Homo sapiens: one gene and its partners. The protein of the gene in region 3 interacts with the protein of the main gene of each other region in a pairwise test. Each region holds a gene or a part of one and is shown on either strand. Other genes may lie near its edges.

Region 1 (7,004 bases), on a different chromosome or scaffold from region 3:
CTTAATTAATTTAAACTTAGCTAATTTAAACTTTTAATTGAGTATAATTTGGAGCTTAGTGCTCTTAAACCCACTGAGTAGATAATAACAGATTATAGGCCATACTAGGAATGTAAATGCAAGGTTCTTAAAAGTTCTGGTAAGATGTATCAGTGTGCTCCAAAGACCACCAGGAACACACCTGTAGTTGAATGAAGTTGGGTTTACTGACTTACTGCAGCAAGGGAGAATGAATACCACGGAGAACAATAGGATGTCTTACAAGTATGTTAGAAAAGTATTTTTTTTTGGGCTTGGGTTTGTGTTACCTGATTTTGGATAAGGTTCAAGGAAGTAGAGCTTTGCTCTGCATTGGATGCTCTCAGGAAGTAGAGATGATTCTATGTTTGGGTATCTTATCAAATCTTATCTAGAAGGTGAGAGGAATGAATCTTACTAAATCTTATCTGGAAGGTGAGAGGAATGAATTGAGGCTAAAGCTGCAGTTGGTAAAGTAGTAGCAGTTACTCATATTAGCCAGGATAAAAGGTTGTTTGGTCATTTTTCTGGTGTGGTCAGTGTTCTTGTTTTTGTCTGGAGTTTTGACATGGTTATGGACTGTTGATCTATCACAGATTATAGTCTTGTGTGATGTTGGTGTTCTTTGAAATATTTATATTCAACGGGAGAACACCACAGCCTACCTGTGAGTGCCAGGCCAGCTTCCAGCAACACTAAGGCCTGTCTTACTGTACCAGACCAGTTTCTGGCTGCTAGGAGCTGTTTTTCTCATCAAATATTGGAGAAAAAACAGTAATACCAAGTGAAAACCAATAATTGATGTAGGTAGGAGATTGTATTGAACTTCATAGCTATGCAGGGAGTATGTGAATTACTGTGAGTTTTCTTCTAAAAGCTTATAATTGGTGGTTTGATTTTGAAACATGTTTAACAAAGAATCGCCCTGAACTTTTATTTTCACGTAGATGTCCTTTTCTAATTAGGTGCTTCAGGAGTTTGTATGTATGTATACTGGCAATGTGCAAAGCATTTTAGTTTAATTTTTGAACGCCTGTCTTGGGGTTTGCAATCAGAGCCTTGTGTCACTTTCTTTTTAAAAATAACCTGAGTGGTGACAGTGTTTGTTGCTGAATGAAGGATTTCATTTTTTTCAGTCAACTGAAAATCATTTGGACAAAATGAATAATAAGTGAAGTAATGTTGCTTTCATTAAAAAATCACAACTAGAGATTACCGAGTAATCTCTGGCATTTTGTGGCTTATATACTGTTTCTGGAAGTAACTGCTTTGAAGGACAGTCATGATGTAGATAAGTTCTGCATATATTTTTAAATTTATATTTATTTTTTAAAATTTTTTGAGACAAGGTCTCCCTCTGTCATCCAGGCTGGAGTGCAGTGGAGTGATCTCAGCCAACTGGACTTCCCCTCCCGGGATCAAGCAATCCTCCCACCCCAGCCTCCTGAGTAGCTGGGACTGCAGGCATGTGCTGCCACACTTGGCTAATTTTTTAAGGTTTTTGTAGAGATGAAGTCTCACTGTATTGCTCAGGTTTTTCTTGAACTCCTGGGCTCAAGCAGTTCTCCCTCCTTGGCTTCCCAAAGTGGTGGGATTACAGGTGTGAGCCACCATGCCTGGCCCTGCATATATTTTTTTAACGATTTCTTTTAAGATCAGCTATTTTAGTTAGCTGTTTTTTTTCAAGACAAAGTTATGCAAGAGGGATAACAGACCTATCAGTCATGTTATATCTTTAAACATGTATAGAGTAAGGTATTTTTGTATTATTTTAAGAATAGCGTGAAATAAAATGAGCTTTTTAAGTTATATAATTTTTATTAAATTTAATAATTTCTATTAAATTTAATAAATATTTAAGAACAGCATGAAATAAAGTGAGCTTTTGAAGTTATGATTTTTATTAAATTTAATCATTTCTATTAAAAAGTAGAGCTCGGATTTTCCTACCAAACCTTTTTACCAGTAAGGTCATAGGCTATAGGTATGGCATCAAGAAAGACTGATAATTCTGCTTTTTTTCCAAAATAAGTTATTAGCCATAGAGAATTCTTTTTTTTTAAAAAAAAAGTTACTCCATTACATTGATATCTTGTTTTTGTTTTTTTAAAGGAATTGTATTTATTTTTCCTTGTTGCATATTATTAGTATACTTATTCATGAACTTCTAATTTTAAGCAAATAAATGTTTTTATTTCAGTTAATGGCCAGCCAAGACCCCTTGAATCAAGTCAGGTGAAATATCTCCGTCGAGAACTGATAGAACTTCGAAATAAAGTGAATCGTTTATTGGATAGCTTGGAACCACCTGGAGAACCAGGACCTTCCACCAATATTCCTGAAAATGGTAAACCCTGAATCCATTGTATTCTGACTTATTGTTCTTACGTCTTTTTGGAGGTTTTAAAAAACTCTTTTTAAGTAGGAGAAGGATGGCATCCCCAATGTCACTCTTGTTTCTTCCTCTGCCTCTCTACTAGTATTTATGTCTGTGTTCCTAAACTTTGCTGTTCATCAGAATTACTAGGAGGTTTCATTATACCAATTTCTGGATCTCATCATAGACCTACTGGAGCGTAGCACCTGGAAATCCCATTTTTAAAGTGTTTTTTGGGTGATTCTTTCGCAACTAGTCTTAGACTTTTGGATTTGTTACACAGGTCAGTTTTCAAATCCTTTTGACACATGAACCCTTTTTAGTATAATAGATAAGTAATGAACCTTGGGAATTGAAAATCATTTCATGAATAATTACATAGTGTTGGAAGTATTTTCAACTAAAAATCACTTAGATTAGTAATGTTCATTAAAAATGGTATGTTGTAAATTTGAAACACAGTTTTTAATAATAATTAAAGAAAAACTAATTTTTTCCCCATTGTATAATGACATGTACTGTTTGTGTTAAGATAAAGCAAAATGTGTCAACATTTGGAACTGACATAATTTTGGGACCGAATGTATTTTAAAATGTGGACTGAACTTTAAGTATGTGTTAATGACTTGAAAGTACAGTTAAAAAACTGCTTTCTTCTTTTAAGATTCTTAGATGTTGCATTTAAAGAAAACTCTTATTATTATTTTTTTCTTTTTACAAATTCTTTGTTTGCTTATAATTTTCATAGTTTAAAACTGTCCATATTGTGAAATAGTAATTTAAAAAAAGTCTAGACTGGATGACTGCATATAAAGGGCTTAACATGAGATAATTTTTGTGGATAAATGGTATGTATTCTATTTTTGGCCACTAAATATTTTGGAAGTTTTTGTTTTCTATTTTTATTTTAGTTACAGTTTAAATAAAGATGTATTTTCCATCATTTCTCTCTTCCTGTCTTCTAATAGTCATATGGAATTATGTTAATGATAGATGTTTAATAAATATTTGGTGATTGATTATTCCTAGTTGCACTTCTATTTCAGAACATAATGGAGATTTGCTGAATACTATAATGAGATCCTCTTGGTCACTTTATGATGAAACCTTTTATATTTCAGGTCAAAGAAGGTTGCCTATTCTGAGCCCTACCTCTCCAAACAAAAATTTCCAATTTTAGATCAAGAATCAATGAAAAAGTTAGACAATTTTTCCAGAAGAATTCATAGATGCTGACACAACATTTGCATATAATTTCAGGGGATTTAACCATCTGCAGAATATTAAGAAGTGTAGATGAGAATTTAACCAGTATAGCCAATACTGTTCAGAAATTAGCTACAGTGGCCCACATTCTACTCTAAGGAATGGATTTATGAGTTTTTTGCTTTAGGTGAAACTTTTTCCTCACCTCTTTCTTGCTACTGTTTATACTTTATTCTTTGTGTCTATATTTTTTATACATACTGTTAGCTTTTTACCTATGTTAATGTAAAAGGTGTTAAAATTGGTTTCTTCTCTGCATTTTGGAAATCATGCCATATGTTGTTTTCTTGTATGGCCATTTTCTAGTTATTGTGTCCTGTCTGACATATCTGATGATAAGATGATATAAGAATAATACAATCTGCATTATATTTTTAGAGATAGTTCTTATTTTTTTAGAAAACAAAAACAACAAGAAAACCATACATCAGAAACTGAAATCTAGTCCACAAAATGAAATTGCCAATCAGCTATCAGTGCTATTTAGAACCTGTGGCTTACCCTCACCAAGAAATGTGGCCACCTGTGGTCTTCAGCTCTCTATTACAGCGGTTCTTGGATGCTTGTTTTCCTTTAAGAGGCAAATGATGTGTAAACTACCTTAGATAGAAGATTGACCTGTTGCAGTATCTCCAGCAGCTAATGGAGCAAGTAGTAGGACGTATAGTATGTTTCCTGATGGTTTTAGTTTGTGATAAGTGAAAAGAGGCATAGGTAGTGAGATGTGAGGGGAAACAACTTGTAAGACTGACGTGGTATGCTCTTGGGATTAGAGGAAGGAAGTTGGTAGGGAAGATAGATAACTGGTAGACATGTTTTAAAGGAATACTTCTAGTAGTAGTTTTCTTTTTCCAAACATTTAGAAAATATTAGGGTAGCCTGGAATGGTATGTTAGGAATGAATGAGCTGCCAGCCAGTGTGTGCTGTGGGTACTTATATTCGGTTTAGCACTTAACATTTTTTTCAGAAGATACATTTTGTATTGATTACAGGGGTGATCTAAGAACTGATGTTCATTTACTTGCTTGGTAACAAAAGTGATAATCATTGTCCCTTAATTGAGTAAATGGTTAGCAACAGTCTTTTTGTTTACTTGTTCGTGTTTTTTGTTTGTTTCTTTTGATGTCTTTTGTATCTTGGACTTGGATTCCTATTTGTAAAATGTATGTTAAAATTCTTGAACTCTTTTTCTTTCACAAGACAGTAGTATAAATGCCTGTGGAATATCTTAGTATCCTGAGAAGAAAAGCATGATTTTAAATTTAACCTGCTCATAATATTTGACATTTTGTTTTTCTGTTGTTGTTTTAAACATTTTATTATAGAAAAGTTTAAGTATATAAGAAAGTAGACATTATAATGAATCCCAGAAACCCACATCCAGTTTCAACAGTTACCAACTTATAGTATCATATAATTACACTATACACATTTCCGCCCCTCCTGTTACCCAGAGTGGAGTACAATCTCAGCTCACTACAAACTTTGCCTCCTGGGTTCAAGTGATTCTCGTGACTCAGCCTCCTGAGTAGCTGGGATTACAGGCATGCATCACTGTGCCTAGCTAATTTTTGTATTTTTGGTAGAGATTGGGTTTTGCCAGGCTGGTCTCGAGCTCCTGACCTCAAGTGATCTACCCACCTCGGCCTCTCAAAGTGCTGGAATTACAGGCATGAGCTGTTGCACCCGGCTCCCCTCCTGTATTATTTTGATGCAGATCCCATATACATCATTTCATCTGTAAGCATTTTAATAAGTATTTTAATAAGTAATACATATTAAAATAGAAGGTAGCAAATTCAAAAATGTTTTTAATGTGCTATTTATGGAAGATTATGAATTAATTATGGTTGGCTTGATTTCCATGTAATTTAATAGTGGACCAGTAGACAGTAGAAATAAAATGTAAAATTTGAGATTATAACCTTAGTTCAGTTTCTTTTTATAAAATAAAGCCTTAGTTCCTATAATTATTATTTCCAGAGTGCCCAGTGGGTATCTGATACTAGGATATAGGTTATTGGGCTCCAAAAAAACCAAAAAAAGTAAAATGTTTCTCTTTATCAAGGAGCTTGTATTTTTTTCATCTAATGTTTCTTACAAAAGGAGGTAAATAATTTTTTTGGAAAGCTTTTGTTCATCTTCTGTTTCTTTTTGCCCTCTTCTCCCTGTTACTAGAAGGAAAAATATAAAAAAAATAAAGGAATTAAAATGATCTGTAATCCTATATTCCGACATGCTTAACATTCCAGACTATCATTATACACCTGCATTATTTCCCTTGTACTTTTAGGCCTTACTGAATATAGATAAAAAGGAAACAAGTTTTTGTTTATTCCTCTATTTTTACAGATACTGTGGATGGTAGGGAAGAAAAGTCTGCTTCTGATTCTTCTGGAAAACAGTCTACTCAGGTTATGGCAGCAAGTATGTCTGCTTTTGATCCTTTAAAAAACCAAGATGAAATCAATAAAAATGTTATGTCAGCGTTTGGCTTAACAGATGATCAGGTTTCAGGTAAGTTGGTTTCCAACTCCTTTACACCCTTCGTTTCCTTCATCTTTCCGTTCTTCCCTTTCCTTCTTTCTTTAATTGAAGAATAACTTGGATATGGTGAAGTGCACAAATCTTAAGGGTTCTGCTTAACAAATTTTTACATATGTGTACACTTATGTAAAAGACTAACTAGATTAAGATGTAGATGATTTCCAGCACTTCAGAAAGCTTTCTTATGTCCTCTCCCCAAGAGTAGCACCCTCCCCCTTAAAGAATAAGCACTGTTGGGTTCAAGTAAATTTTTGAAAGTAAAATTTAGAAAGTTTTTAAAAATCTGAACTATTTTATAATTTGATTAGTTGCAGTATTCGAATTATATTTGATTTGTCTTATCTCCTCATCTTAGAGAAATTGAAAATTAAATGTAGATTTTCTTGTTAAATTGCTTGAGTATACAGTGGGTTTTTATATAAATAAGTTTTTAACCTTAAAGCAGTACCTATATTGTTTTATTCTGTTTAACTTTTGGTTATAATTTCTTCATTATTTTTTCCTGCTTTTTCTCTTTTCGGATTCTAATAACACATACATTGGAGAGCTTGATACTGTCTCATGGGTCATTAAGGTTCATTTTTCTTCAGTCTTCTCTCTGTTCTTCAGGTTGGGTGATTTCTGTTGAACTCTTCAAGGTCGCTGTGATTTCTAATATGCTGTGGAACCTTTCTAGTGAATTGTTTAATTGTGCTTTCAGCTCTAGAATTTCCATTGGGTTTTTATAGTTTCTGTTTTTCTGTTGAGATTCTTTATTTTACATTCATTAAGTCTATATTTTCCTTTAATTGTTTG
Region 2 (7,517 bases), on a different chromosome or scaffold from region 3:
GCCAACAGTCACATTCTTTCTTGGGCCACGTCATTCATTTTCAGTTGCTTCAGAGCACTGGTGGCCCCTTGGGTGTGTTGAACAAACCCCAGCCTTTGAGGAGTTCAAAAAAAAAAAAAAAAAAAAAGACACCATCTCTAGGCGGAAAATTTCAGACAAAGAACCCCTGCCAGGAATATTTCCTGCCGCTGCTCCTGCCACTGCCCCTTAGGCTGTGGACCTTTATGCAAGAACGCAAGTGGCAAACTGCCCTACTGTGTATGTTGTGGGGAGTGGGGGTACTGCCAGAGAAGAGAGAGCCCTATTTTATTTTATTTTATTTTATTTTAAAGACAGAGTCTCACTCTGTTGCCCAGGCTGGAGTGCAATGGCACGATCTCGGCTCACTGCAACCTCTGCCCCCTGGGTTCAAGAGATTCTCCTCCCTCAGCCTCCCCAGTAGCTGGGATTACAGGCGCATGCCACCACGCCTGGCTAATTTTTGTATTTTTAGTGGAGACGGGGTTTCCCCATGTTGGCCAAACTCCTGACCTTATGTGATCCTCCCACCTTGGCCTCCCAAAGTGCTGGGATTAGAGGCATGAGCCACTGTGCCCAGCTGACAGCCCTCTCTAAATCTTTAAAAATTCAGTCAGGCGTGGTGGCTCATGGCTGTAATCTCAGCACTTTAGGAGGCTGAGGCAAGAGGAATGTGTGAGCCCAGGAGTTTGAGACCAACTTGGGCAATATGGTGAGACCCTATCTTGACAGAAAATACAAAAATCAGCCTGGCATGGTGGTGCACGCTTGTAGTCCCAGCTACTCAGGAGGCTGAGGCAGGAAGATCACTTGAACCCAGGAGGTCGAGGCTGCAGTGAGCTATGATCACGCCACTGTACTCCAGCCTGGGAGACACTGTCTCAAAAAATAAATAAATAAAATCTTTAACAATTCTTCAGCTTATCCGCCTACCTTCTGGGGCTTCTTGGGTCTCTTCCCAGAAACTTTCTTCGTCTGTAAGCCCGTTTATTGTATGCAATTGTTTAAAAAACACAAATGGGTGCATATTCTCATATTCTCTACCCTCTATTTTGAACGTTCCTTTTTTTTCTTTTTTTCAGACCGAGTCTCAGTCTGTCACCCAGGCTAGTGCAATGGTGCAATTTTGGCTCACTACACCCTCTGCCTCCCAGATTCAAGCGATTCTCCTGCCTCAGCCTCCCGAGTAGGTGGATTACAGGTGTGCACCGCTGCACCCAGCTAATTTTTGTATTTTTAGTAGAGACGAGGTTTCACCATGTTGGCCAGACTGGTCTTGAACTCCTGATCTCAGGTGATCCACCTGCCTCCGCCTCCCAAAGTGCTGGGATTATAGGCATGAGCCGCCTTGCCTGGCTCAAAGTTCCTTTTTGGTTTAACAATAGATCTAGGCCACTGTGAGTCTTCCTCATTCCTTCTAGGGCTACCTAGTGTTCCGGGGTTATTTAACCAGCCCCCTCCTACCAGGCAGTTCTTTTGTCTCTGGCCCTTTGCTACGTATATTAGTTTAAAGTTCACTTTGCAAGTGGCCAAGCCTGTTTCCCTCATTTCCAGGTTCCCAGGGGGCAGACATCCTGCTGCAATTTCAGAAGTCAGCACACTCTTCTCTCTCCTGTCTAAAATACAAAAGTCCATGCCCCCCACTCTCCCTCTTGATACTGTCCTATTTTACTTCTTTTCACAACCAGAACTCTTTATTTTTCCCAAATAAAAATAGTCCGTCTTTTCAGATTTTAAAAATGGAACTCTGGCCGGATGCGGTGGCCCTCACCTGTAATCCCAGCACTTTGGAAGGCTGCAGTGGGCAGATTACCTGAGGTCAGGAGTTTGAGATCAGCCTGGCTGACATGGTGAAACTCTGTCTCTACTAAAAATACAAAAATTAGCCCGGATGCGGTGGCTCACATCTGTAATCCCAGTACTTTGGGAGACCGAGGTGGGCAGATCACGAGGTCAGGAGTTCAAGACCAGCCTGGCCAACATGGTGAAACCCTGTCTCTACTAAAATACAAAAATTAGCTGGGCATGGTGGCATCCGCCTGTAATCACAGTTACTCGGCAGGCTGAGGAAGAATTGCTTGAACCTGGGAGGCGGAGTTTGCAGTGAGCTGAGATTGTGCCATTGCACTCCAGCCTGGGCGACAGAGCAAGACTCCGTCTCAAAAATATATATATATACAAAAATTAGCTGAGTGTGGTGGTGCATGCCTGTAATCCCAGCTACTCGGGAGGTGAGGCAGGAGAATCACTTGAACCTGGGAGGCGGAGGTTGCAGTGAGCCGAGATTGTGCCATTTCACTCCAGCCTGGACAACAAGAGCAAAACTCGTCTCAAAAAAAAAAAAAAGGAAAATAAAAATCCCTGATAAAGGATCAATGACCTTAGGATAATGTCATTCCAGGTAAGTATCTTTAACTGGGTACTTGGTCCTCCAAGATTCAGAGGACCTTGATCCCCCTGAAACTGTATACATAATATTCAACATACATAGTATGTGCACACATGTGCAAACACTCACATTATCTAAAATTCATCATAATCTTACCCCGGCTTCTCCCCACACTCCTCAGATCCTGCTATAGCCTAGTGCATTTTCTCCTTCCTCACTCCCTTCCCTCCATGTGTCCTCTGCCCTGGCCACCAGGAACTTTGTGCTGCCTCCGGAGTGCATGAGGCACTTTCACATCTCTCTTGCTTTACAAGAGCTTCCCTATGCTCCAACTGGCAAATTTCTCTATGGACTGAAAAACCCACATAGCCTTTATCTGTCTTGTGATGTCTTCTCCCCACCCTCAAGTTAGGCATACCCTTCTATGCCCTCCTTTATCCAAACATTTTCCCCACTATATCGTAATTGTGTGTTTAAGTGCCGGACTTTCCAACTAGATACAAAGCTTTCCCAGGAAAGAAATCCTTTTCTTTTCTTCTTTCTTTCTTTTCTTTTCTTTTCTTTCTTTTTTTTTTTTTTTTTTTTGAGACAGATTCCCACTGTGTCGTCCAGGCTGGAGTGCAGTGGCACAATCTTGGCTCAGTGCAACCTCCACCTCCAGGGTTCAAGTGATTCTCTTGCCTCAGTCTTCCAAGTAGCTGGGATTACAGGCACGCGCCACCACACCCAGTTAATTATTATTATTATTATTATTTTTTTTTTTTTTTGAGACGGAGTCTCGCTCTGTCACCCAGGCTGGAGTGCAGTGGCACAATCTCGGCTCACTGCAAGCTCCGCCTCCCGGGTTCACGCCATTCTCCTGCCTCAGCCTCCCGAGTAGCTGGGACTACAGGAGCCCACCACTACGCCCGCTTAATTTTTTTTTTTTTTTGTATTTTTAGTAGAGACGGGGTTTCACCGTGGTCTCGATCTCCTGCCCTCGTGATCCGCCCGCCTCGGCCTCCCAGAGTGCTGGGATTACAGGCGTGAGCCACTGCGCCCGGCCTCCACACCCAGTTAATTTTTGTATTTTTAGTAGAGACGGGGTTTCACCATGTTGGCCAGGATGGTCTCAATCTCTTGACCTTGTGATCTGGCTGCCTCGGCCTCCCAAAGTGCTGGGATTACAGGCGTGAGCCACCGCTCCCGGCGAGAAACCTTTTCTTTTTCTTTTTTCTTCTTCTTCGTCTTTTTTTTTTTTTCTTTTGAGAGGGATTCCTGTTCCGTCGCCCAGGCTGGAGTGCAATGGCGCGATCTTGGCTCACTACAGCCTCTGCCTCCCGGGTTCAAGCGATTCTCTTGCCTCAGCCTCCCGAGTAGCTGGGATTACAGGCACGAGCCACCACGCCCGGCTAGTTTTTTTTGGTATTTTTAGTAGAGACGGGGTTTCGCCATGATGGCCAGGCTGGTCTGGAACTCCCGACCTCAGGTGATCCGCCCACCTCTGCCTCTCAAAGTGCAGGGATTACAGGCATGAGCCACTGCGCCCAGCCAAGAAACCATTTCTGATTCACCTATTCACTCCCGCACTCCCACTACACAGTAGCTAAATAAATAAATAAATATTAAAAATAAATAGGAAAGAAAGAGAGAAAAAAAGAAAAGAAAAAGACAAAAATTTAAATTTAAAAAGGTTGTGCTCGATGGCTCACACTTGCAACCCCAGTGCTTTGGGAGGCTGAATGAAGCAAGAGGATCGCTTGAGGCCAGGAGTTTGAGATCGGCCTGAGCAACGTTGCAGCATTGCAAAACCCCCATCTGTACAAAAAAGAAAAATAAAATTAATTTTAAAAACAAAAAAAGAGAAACAGTAGCACATGTATGTACTGGCACCATGTATGTACTAGTAAAAACTAGTTAAAATTAAGTCAGTAATTAATGAAGGAATAAGTCAATGAGTGAGCAGGCGAAGGAAGAAAACATAGACCGGAGCAGGTGCGCCTTGGGTTGAGCCCTTCCCCGCTGAGCCCCGCCTTCTGCCCGCCCCTGGGCCCTACCGGGACTACATTTCCCAGAAGGCCGCACGCCCCGGGCATGCGCAGCGGCTCGCTCGGAAGCTGCGACGCCGAGTTTCACTCTGGCTGCCTTCTCCTGAGAGTCGGAGCCACAGCCAGAGCCCTGCCCAGGCCGAGCCGGAGCTGCAGCCCGAGCGCGGTGGTGCCCTCAGCCCCGTCCTCTTGTCCTCCTCAGCCTCGGTGAGAGGGCGGGAAGGCCACCTGCGCGTCGCTAGGGCTGCGGTCCCAGGGGCGCGGGGTGGCGCGGGGAGCCGGAGCCTAGCTGGGACCGGAAGGGGGCGGGCGTGGGTGTGAGGGGGACCGACGGCCGGGGCGGCGGGGACACCCGGGGGTCCCGGGAGATCGGGGGTGTCGGGGGGATCGGTCTCCGGGATCAAGGTCCTGAGGGCGAGAGTTGGGGGACTTGGGAGGCGCCGGCAGCTTTGGACGGGACAGGGTGCCGGGTGCGAAAGGGGACGTTCGGATGAAGGCTGAGGGGCTCGCAGGCGGAGGGGCGCGGTTCCGGGTCGCTCGGAAGGCGCGCACCCCTTCCCAAAGTACCCAGAGGAGGGGGTGACGAGATTGCCACCGGCTCCCTGACGAGGGGTTGGTCCTGCTGGGGTCTACCCCCAGGTGAAGGGACTCACTGGGCCGGGGGTTGTACTTTGGAGGAGTTTGCTTCCTAACTCTGCTTCCCTGCTTTCCTGTGGGGGGTCTTCCCAGGAGTTCCTGGGGCCCTGGGTCACTTTTTGGGGTGCGTAAGGGGTGCCGAAAAAGATTTAGAACTCGGTTCCCTTTTCTGGAGCTGCGCTTTCATCGCGACTGTCTCAGCCAGCTGCCCTCCTCCTCCAAGCTGGCTCCACTTCTCTAAGCGCCAACAGCGATGGAAATAAATAGCATGTGTACAGACGCCTGGACCCTTGAGAAACTCAGAATATTTCTGCATGCCTTCCTAGCTCCTCTAGCGCTCTAGAAGGTAGACTTTCTGGTAGCCACCATCCGGGCTTAAGCCATCCGGATAGCAAGCCCTCTGATTCGGTTGCTCTGTGACCTTAAATATTTACCCTCTCTGGTGTGTTGATTTCCTGGATGCTTAGCTGCCAGACTGGCTTATGAAGTCCTTTTAGAGTTTTCTGTAAAAGGGCTCAGGCCAGGCACGGTGGCTCATGCCTGTAATCCCAGCCCTTTGGGAGGCCGAGGTGGAAGGATCATTTGAGTCCAGGAATTTGAGACAAGCCTGGGAAACGAAGAGGATTCCTGAGATCACTGTCTCTATAAAAAATCAGATGGGCGTGTTGGTGGGTGCCTGTAGTCCCAGCTACTTGGGAGGCTGAGGCAGGAGGATCGCTTGAGCCCAGGAGTTGGAGGCTGCAGTGAGCTGTGATCACACCACTGCACTGCAGCATGGGCGACAGAGGGAGACCCCGTCTCAAAAAACAAAAAACAAACAAACTAAAAAAACGAACTTTTTTTTTTTTTTAAGAAAAGGGCTCAGAGCCAGGCGTGGTGACTCGAGCCTATAATCCCAGCTACTCGGGAAGCTGAGGCAGGAGAGTAGCTTGAACCTGGGAGGCGGAGGCTGCAGTGAGCCGAGATCACGCCACTGCACTCCAGCTTGGGTGACAGAGCAAGACTCCGTCTCCAAAAACTAATAATAATAAAAAATTTTAAAAAGAGCTCAGGGTTTTTTTGTTTGTTTGCTTTTTGTTGTTTCTTCAACCATCTCCTTGATTGTTAAGTGGGTGGAGGAAGACTGTTGTACCTCCTGCTCCACCCAGGCTATTGGAAAATAAATCTGGTGATTTTCAGTCCCCAGGCACAGCACACGGATCCAACATCTGTACCTTTGTTTTTACTAACTGCTGTTTCTTAATTTAAAACCTGATCATCTTCTTCCTCGTTGGCAAAGGTGCCTTGGAATTTGTGTCGCTGAGTCAGCAAGCCTTTCAGATTTGCCCGGTTTTTGTTGTTTGTGGTTTGTATCAAGATGGGAACTCAAACAAGTCATTCCTCCTAAGGAGCTGGTGTCTTCATCCAGAAGGGACAGTTTGTGCCAGCTCTCCAGAGAGAAAAGGTGAGAGCCATGGGGACTTGACCTTGCTGCCTTCTCTATCTGGTGCAGAGAAGGTGGGGATTGGGGAGGGTGGAATTTGAGGTCTGCAGGATAAACGTGTGCCCTGGGAGTTGACTGTTGATTGCCACCTGTCTCAAATAAATTGCAGTGGCGTCTTGCCACTGCTTCTCCTGTTTAACTAACTAGTCTTAGAAGATGCTTTCCACTTTAAGACATGCTTTATGGGATAGAAGACACAAGTCACGATTTCTGCATTTGAAGTGGCAGTTTTCATTTCTTTTGTTGCATAAACCCTTACTGGGTGCCAGATAAGATCTCTGTCTTTTGGGAGTGCATTGTTTGGTGGAAAAGACAAAGCAGAGTCAGTGACAAGGTGTTGTCAGTGTGATATATACTGAGCTGGGAGAAATCACAAGGCTCTCCTACCCACATCCAGAAAGGGGACGGTTAGAGGGAAGGTCAGGAAGGCTCCTGGAAGGTGGTAGTTGAGGGGGGTTGTGAAGGAGGAGTAGGACTTAGAAAGTGGGGCACAGTCACCTGGGAGAGGAGTCAGCGTTTGCAAAGTCATGAAGCTACCGGGACACAGCTGGGCTACTGTAAGTAGCTTAGTATGTAATAGAGGAGGCTGGAAAAGCAGGCAGAGGGCTCTGAGCGAGGAGGGTTATGTGGGCCATGCCAAGACTCGGGAGTGGAAGGATTTTAGGAGATTTCTATGAGGGTCATTTTATTAATTATTTTTTTGAGTTGGGGTCTGCTTCTGCTGCCCAGGCTGGAGTGCAGTGGAGTGATCATAGTTCACCACAGCCTCAAATTCCTGGGCTCTGGGGTAGCTGAGGTGCCTACCACCATACCCGACTAATAATTTTATCTAGAGACAGTGCCGCTCTACGTTGTCCAGGCTGGTCTCTAACTCCTGGCCTCAAGGGATCCTCCCATCTCAGCCTCCCAAAGTGCTAGGATTACAGGCCTGAGCCACCGTGCCTGGCCTCGTGAGGGACATTTT
Region 3 (7,677 bases):
TATAGCTCGTCAGCCTTGTCCATTGCCGTCCTGGTGTAGGGTATACCATCTTAGACCCCCTGCCTTGCACCACTCCACCCTGTCCTGGCACCACAGTCCTACCAGGTTCTGAGCTAGCCAGATGAGTCCTGGCATAGAATATGGTGGGCTGGGGCAAGATCTGGGGGCCGGGCTTGCACTCACCTGTAGTCTGGGCTCAGGGTCACCTCTGGGACCTCTTGCTTCAGCCATGTCAGCTCCCGGCCCCCCTGGCATTGTAGCCATGCCAGCCATGGCGAGTCTAGCACCTGCTGCATCAGGACCTCTGTCTGCTGTAGCAGCTGACCGACCTCCTGTGATTGAGGGCAATAAGCTGTGGAGGTGGCCATGGGAGAGAAGGAGGGAGACAGGGAGCATTCATGGAGGGACTGGGAGGGGACACTCACCCCAGGCTCCATGGGCTGGGGCACAGCCTTCACACTTTCGATGGCCCCCTGGAGCAGGGCACAAGCTGCCTGGCAGTTCTGTAGTAGAGCTTCCAGCCGCTGTAAGCAGGGGCAGGCATGACCGGAGCAGCATGCAGTGTTGGTCCTGGGCTTCCTGGGTTCCAGGCCACTGCAGCCAGCTTTGTCTGGTTCAAGCCAGCCCCAGAGAGGCTCCTCCATGATCCCAAGTTGCCTATATGACTGCCCCCATGCCCCACCCAGTGTACTGACCCTTCGGAAATCCAGCCAGGCCTGGTGGCAGTAAGGCAGGCCTCCTCCTAGCGAAGTGGGCAGCCCCGCCGTTGGGATGTGGGTCAGCAGGCTCTGAGAAGGCAACTGCTCCAGCTACAGGAGAAGAAGGTGTTGTGACCCAGGCCTGGGGGGAGGCACCCCACCTCTACCCCTAGCCAACTGGGCTTAGTACCTGCAGCCCGGAAGGCACTTCCTTCAGCAGCGTGCTTCCCACTAGCAGCACCTGGTACACGGCCCCTGGGGCTGCTTCCTGCAAGGAACCTGAGCTCAGCACTATCCCCAACTCTACAGAAAAGGGCATGGTGGCTCACGCCTGTAATTGCGGCACTCTGGGAGGCGAGGCGGGAGGATCACCTGAGTTCAGGAGTTCGAGATCAGCCTGGGCAACACATGGTGAAACCCCCTCTCTACTAAAAAATACAAAAATCAGCTGGGCATGGTGGCAGGTGCCTGTAATCTCAGCTAATTGGGAGGCTGAGGCAGGAGGATCACTTGAATCGGGGAGATAGAGTTTGCAGTGAGCCAAGATTGCGCCACTGCACTCCAGCCTGGGCGACAAAGGCAAGACTCCGTCTCAAAAAAAAAAAAAAAGAAAAGAAAAGGAATGAGGGGAGCTACAATCCTGTACTCACTTGTAGTTGGCTGAGCCCAGAGAAGAGGGAAGAACTTGGAGCACAAATTCGGGCATCAACTAGCACTGTCAGTCCCAGTGCCTGTACTTCGGGCCTAAAGGGGTGAGCTTCAGTTCAGTACCTGACTCCCAGTCCTCACAGCTGGCTCAGGCTCAGTCTCCCAACCCCCTCCCTCAAACCTGGGGATGCTTCGCAGGTACAGCAGGAGGCGGATGAGTTCCTGGCTGCTGCACTCAGACTGAAGCCAGGCTGGGCTGTGGGCACACAGAAGCAGCACTGCCCGGCCTTGGACATCCCGAGTCCCTGTGGGGAGGAAGCAGTGAACTCCTGCCGTATTGGGCCACTCCACCTCCACCGCCTCTAGGCCCGCCTGGCTACCTGGCAAGGTGGCCATACCACTGGCCAGCAGCTCCCAACAGAGGTCTTGGGCCAGGAGGCAGTCAGCAGGCTTAGGGAGGCCGGATCCACTGGGGGCTTGGGAAGGGAAATGACTTGGGTCTGCCTTGGACCACCTATCCAGAGACCCCTACTTGGACCCGGGCTTCAGCCTGAGTAGGGTCAGAGACCTCCAAAGTCTTGACACTCATCTCTCCAGGCATCCCCATTCCCTTCCCAGACTTCCCTAGCCCAGCCTTCCTTACCTGCCTCCAGCAGCTTTGATATTTCTGATAAAGGGTCTCCAAGGCCCACAGGGTCGCTGTCCAATGCCCCAGGGCTCAAGCCAGATGGCATCGCCCTGCTTGGACCTGGGTCCCCTACCAACCCTACCCCTGGGGTGTCACTCTCACCCTGTGCCAAGCTGAGGTGGGAGGACATGGGGCATAGGAGACTCTCCACTCCAGAGGGGCCTGGCCCTTCTGACAGGACTGAGGAGCTTTCTACTGTGCCCCTCTGGGCATCCCCCGACTCATCTGCAGCTGGGGGTAACTGGAATTTCCTGGACAAGGGGCTGCCCTGTAGCTCCTCATCCTGGGTGGCCCCGGCTGGTGGTCTTGGAGGACCTGGGTCCTTAACGTGCATCTGGGAAGCAGGTTCCTCCTCTTCCCAGGCATCCCTGAAACTGCACACAGCAAATCTCCAGTCGGTGGCATGGCCCTGAGAGTCTGGGGACTCATCCCCATTCTCCAGGGGCCTTTCCATCACGCCCTCCTAAAGGTGGGCCTGCTCGGGGCCAGCGGGAGAGGGCTGGGTCTCAGTGTGAACCGCGCTGAAGACAGTCGAGTGGGACTCAGTGGGCAATGCAGGCGAAGGGCATGGGCCGCAGGAGGTGCCAGTCTTAGTGCCAGGGCACAGGAACTGCAATTCAGGCCTGGGAAGAGGGAATAACGTTAAGGGTGTCCCTCTGTCCAGGTCCCCCGTCGGACGCCCGTGGGCCTCTGCTCCGTGCGCGCCCACCCTCAGCGTCCTCACGGCCACGCTCTGCAGGCCCATGCCCGTGGGGGCGGCCCCGCCATGGCACCACGATGCCTCGGGTTCGCTCTCCTGCCGGCCCCCCCAGGCCCTGGCCTTGTTGCAGGGCCTACCGCGCGCCCCCCCGTCGCCCGCTGGCGACACTCACGCCCCCGGGCCGAGCCGCGGGGAACCGTGAAGTCGGACAGCCTTCGAACAGACGGCGGCCTCGACGGCCACTACAGCGCGGCCGCGCGGCGTCACGGGACACCGCCTCCTGGCCGCTGGGAAGGGAGGGCAGTGCCGCCGGGGCGCCGCGCAGCGCCGCGCCGCCCCCTGGAGGCCGGAGGACGGAGCCACAGCCCGAGCAGGTCTCGACGGGGCACAGCCCTGCCGGCGCGGAAGACAAGGTGCGGGCCCTGCAGCAACCCCCGCCCGCCGCCGTCCTCTCCGTGGGCCCGGACAGCCCGCCAGCCCCGCCCCGCCGCACCCCCGGGCCCCGCAGACCGCGCGCCTCACCCGCGGCGTCGCAGTGCGTGGGTTGGGGCAGCGACCAACGGTCGGCAGCTCCACCGTGCCCACTCCCCGGGCCTGGCGAGGACGCCGGAAGCGCTCTCCCGCCAGGAAGGCCGCGTGGGTGAGCGAGGGTGAGTGCGCGGGGGGCACCGCGGGACGGGGCGGGGCGGGGTCTCCCAGGGGCTTCCGCGGCTGAATGAGCCGACGGGAGGGGAAGGCCTTCTGTGTAGGGAAGCGGGGTGCTGCCTCGCCGCGGGCACCCAGAGACAGGTCGCATGATCCCACGTGGGATGGGGCTGCCATCCGGGTGGGAGTGAGACCAATGGGTGGAGCTGACCCAGGCCTGCCAGAGTCCACCAGATCCTCTACCCCTTTGCCATCCCTGGCACCCCCTTACCCCCTTCTCCACAAAGTCCGGTGCAGGAGGCTGGTGCTGAGGTGGGGTTCTGGAGCCAGAGCCCCCAGCCCAGGCCTGGCTTCTCCACTTACCTGCTGGGGGCGCTCCAGGAACTCTGCTCTTTGAGCCTCACCCTCCTCACCTGTAAAAATGGAAAGTCATTTTTCTCCTGGGGTTGCCGTGAGGACTGGGGAAGACTCCCTGTGTTATACGTTCACCCGCTGCCAGCACTCGGGCTGTGTTGGTGCCCTGCCCCCTCATTTCACCCGCAGTCAGGGAATCCTGAACTGATGAAAGCTACCCAAGTGGGTAGCTGTGCGATTTGAGGTCCCTTTAGGGCATGTGGGCCTGGCCCGACACTCCCCAGAATTTGTGGGAAGATTGTGGGAAGGTCAGCTCTGCGACCAGGAGAAGACCCTGAGCCCCACAGTGTGCCCAGGCCCATGGTCCCTGGGGAGAGGGGGCACCGGGTGCAACGGCTTCCCTGGCTCTAAGGCAGGCACCTCTTTCATGAACCTGGGGATTACAACAGGCACAGTGGGACCAACAGCAATCTCCCCACCCAGCCCAGCCCAGCCCCCAGAGTCCAGACTTTCAGGCAGCTACCGAGGAGCCTTCTTCATGAGCAGGTCTGGCTGCCAGAGGGGAGCCTTGGAGTTGTCCTGCTCCATCCCTAACTCCCAGCCAGACCTCTCTTCCCACCCTCCTGGCTTCAGGAAGCATCATCCAACCTTGGCTTCCTCCCCAGTTCTGTCCCAGGGCCACCCCCACTGAGTCACTGCCTTCTGCTCCCTCCCTCCCCTTCTGCTGCCCACCAGCACCCACCAGCCAAGTCCCCCAGGAGCCCTAAGAGCCGGGGGGGACCTGCTGGCGGGCACACATACCCCTGTGAATGCCAGAGGCAAAGAAGAGCCTCAAGCCACAGGCTATAGCTGACCTGGCACCCTGGGCACAGCAGGCAGATTCAGGGGAGGTACAGCCATACTGAGATAGAGGCAGGGCTGGGCCCTGGTTTCTCCACTCCACAGAGAATGTGCATTGTAGGCTTCATGGAAACAGAGACTGTATGTTATCCACTTCCGTACTTTCAGCATCCAGCACAGGGCCTGGCACAGAATAAATGCTTTGGGGCGCCTGACACTGATCACACTACCCCTGCCCTCCTGAGGCTCCACATCTATGTATCCCATGGAAACCAGAGTCACAAATGGAGACAGATTCAGAGACTCAGCCTGAAAGGAGACAGAAGAGGCCGAGAGCTACAGGTTGCATGGCCCAGGATGGCAAAGGTACAGATAGAAATGAGGACACACTGAGGCCTAGTGGGGAATATTGGGGAGCTGGGCCTGGAGCCAGCCAGGGGTGGCTGACCACAGCAGGCTTTGTGGGCTGAGCTTGCAGGACTGAGCAGTGACTCATGGGGCCCATCTCTGTGGCTCTCCTGGCAGCAGAATCAACTCACAGCAGCCTTTTCCACTGAGATCATAAAATGGGAATGGGCCTCCCTCCCCTGGCCCTTCCCCAACTCTCCCTCAGCCTCCCATTTCTTGCCAACATGACTCAATCAAAAATAAAATGGGCCGGGCACTGTGGCTTATGCCACAAAATCCCAGCACTTTGGGTGGCCAAGTCAGGCAGATCACCTGAGGTCGGGAGTTCCAGACTAGCTTGGCCAACATGGCAAAACCCCATCTCTACTAAAAATACAAAAACTAGCCAGATGTGGTGGCACATGCCTGTAATCCCAGCTACTTGAGAGGCTGAGGCAAGAGAATCACATGAACCTGGAAAGCAGGGGTTCCAGTGAGGCAAGATCACACCACTGCACTCCAGCCTGGGTGACAAAGCGAGACTCTGTCTCAAAAATAAATAAATAAATAAAAAGGAGGGGAGGGCTCTGGGCCTCACTGGGTCTAGTGACAACAGACCCACAGTCATTCACCTTGCACACCCCTCTTCAGTACTACCCCAAATACTGAGGGCAACAAATACCCCAGAACTTCCAGACCTCTCTTGCCTTTGGCCTAAATAAACTCCAAACTCCTTGGTATGACAGTCAAGGCCACTTAGAGGCATCACAGCCTTCCCATCTACCTCCCAGACTGGCCTGGAAAACAAATCTGATTACTAGTCTAGTCTCACACTGGCTCCTCTTCCTGAAGGCCCATGCCCATCTCCCCTAATCAAAATCCTTCCTCATTTGAGGCCTGGGTGCAGCATCTCCTTCACGAAGACTACCCCAGCCAAGTTCTCTCAGCTCAGGCCACCCTGCCCAGTCACATGGCAAGGACCCATGGATGAGCGCTTGACGCACTTGCTCTCCTGCATCCAAGTCACCTGCCTGCCTCCCTGTCAAACCCACCATGTTCATCTGCCCCCACCACTGCAACCTCCATCTCCTGGGCTCAAGTGATTCTCCTGCCTCAGCCTCCAGAGTAGCTGGGATTACAGGCATGCACCACCATGCCCAGCTAGTTTTTGTATTTTCAGTAGAGATGGAGTTTCAGCATGTTGGCCAGGCTGATCTCAAACTCCTGACCTCAAGGGATCCACCCGCCTTGGCCTACCAAAGTGCTGGGATTACAACCATGAGCCACCGCACCCGGCCCGACAAATAATGACATTTATGATCCCTTACCTTGAGCCAGGCCCTGGGTAGATTCTTCCCATTAAATTTTGTCATTTAATCCTGACAGCAGCCTTATGAAGTGAGTATGATTATCTCATTTGAGAGATGAGGACACTGAGGCTCAGAGAGAGCATGTAACACACCCAGAATGACACTTGTGAGTGACAGCTGGGGCTGTTGACTCTAAACTGTTGACTACGGCCGGGCGCAGTGGCTCATGCCTGTAATCCCAGCACTTTGGGAGGCCGAGGCGGGTGGATCACCTGAGGTCAGAAGTTCGAGACCAGCCTGGCCAACATAGCAAAACCCTGTCTCTACTAAAAATACAAAAAATTAGCCGGGCATGGTGGTGGGCACCTGTAATTCCAACTACTTGGGAGGCTGAAGCAGGAGAATTGCTTGAACCTGGGAGGCAGAGGTTATGAGCCAAGATCATACCATTGCACTCCAGCCTGAGTGACCTGACTGAGACTGTCTCAAAAAGAGTAAAAAATAAAAATTAAAAAAATAAACTGTTGACGACTAGTTAACTACGAGGCCTTATCACTGTGGCCTGTAAACAACCTAAGGGCAAAGCCCAAGTCACTCTTCCTTCTCATCACACCTTCCCTGCGCATAATGCAGAAAAAGTAAAGGTAAGTTGGCTAAAAGTATAACCTTCCAAGTGTGTCAAAAGTCCTTCAGATCCAGACAGCCAGAAAGTAGGTTAGTTATTACCTAGGGCTGAGGAGGGCCAGGGATGAGGACTGACTGCTAATGAGTACAGGGTTTTTTGGGGGATGATGAAAATGTTCTAAACTTAGATTGTGGTAAGGGCTGCACAACCCTATGGGTATATTCAAAACACTGAACTGTACACTTAAAATGGGTGAATTTTTATGGTATGTGACTTATATCTCAAATATATCTCAGCTACTCAGGAAGGCTGAGGTGGGAGAATCAGGAGAATAGCTTGAACCCAGAAGGCAGCGGTTGCAGTGAGCCGAGATTGCACCATTGCACTCCAGCCTGGGCAACAAGAGCGAAACTCCATCTCAAAAAAAAGAAAAAAAAAAAAAAAGAAATCCCTAGATAAGAGCAGTCCCAAATCCAATTCCCCTGGTGTCTAAAGGACTTAAAACAAAAACAAAAACTTTGGCCCAGCACAGTGGCTCACGCCTGTAATCCCAGCACTGTGGGAGGCCGAGGCAGGTGGATCACCTAAGGTCAAGAGTTCAAGACCAGCCTGGCCAACATGGTGAAACCCCATCTCTACTAAAAATAACAAAAATTAGCCAGGCATGGTGGCGCTCACCTGTAATCCCACCTACTCGGGAGGCTGAGGCAGGAGAATGGCTGGAACCCGGGAGGCAGAGGTTGCAGTGAGCCGAGATCGCACCACTGCACTCTAGTCAGTGC

Evidence for each region. The genes of interacting proteins can lie anywhere in the genome.
Region 1: the proteins of PLEKHG4 (region 3) and TFG interact in binary tests that used the Homo sapiens proteins (3 or more experiments, as listed by UniProt).
Region 2: the proteins of PLEKHG4 (region 3) and DTX2 interact in binary tests that used the Homo sapiens proteins (3 or more experiments, as listed by UniProt).

Annotation. Positions count from the first base shown.
Region 1 is NC_000003.12:100,726,494-100,733,497, forward strand, and holds part of TFG (protein TFG), read left to right. Parts: intron 1-2,218; coding exon 2,219-2,365; intron 2,366-6,014; coding exon 6,015-6,179; intron 6,180-7,004. UniProt on the Homo sapiens protein: Plays a role in the normal dynamic function of the endoplasmic reticulum (ER) and its associated microtubules. Required for secretory cargo traffic from the endoplasmic reticulum to the Golgi apparatus.
Region 2 is NC_000007.14:76,457,196-76,464,712, forward strand, and holds the start of DTX2 (probable E3 ubiquitin-protein ligase DTX2), read left to right. Parts: upstream 1-4,513; 5' UTR 4,514-4,641; intron 4,642-4,744; exon of another isoform or gene 4,745-5,416; intron 5,417-6,249; exon of another isoform or gene 6,250-6,349; 5' UTR 6,350-6,514; intron 6,515-7,517. UniProt on the Homo sapiens protein: Regulator of Notch signaling, a signaling pathway involved in cell-cell communications that regulates a broad spectrum of cell-fate determinations.
Region 3 is NC_000016.10:67,274,856-67,282,532, reverse strand, and holds the start of PLEKHG4 (puratrophin-1), read right to left. Parts: upstream 3,002-7,677; 5' UTR 2,907-3,001; exon of another isoform or gene 2,658-2,906; 5' UTR 2,489-2,657; coding exon 1,990-2,488; exon of another isoform or gene 1,823-1,989; coding exon 1,727-1,822; intron 1,652-1,726; coding exon 1,528-1,651; intron 1,443-1,527; coding exon 1,349-1,442; intron 967-1,348; coding exon 889-966; intron 810-888; coding exon 696-809; intron 525-695; coding exon 426-524; intron 333-425; coding exon 184-332; intron 31-183; coding exon 1-30. UniProt on the Homo sapiens protein: Possible role in intracellular signaling and cytoskeleton dynamics at the Golgi.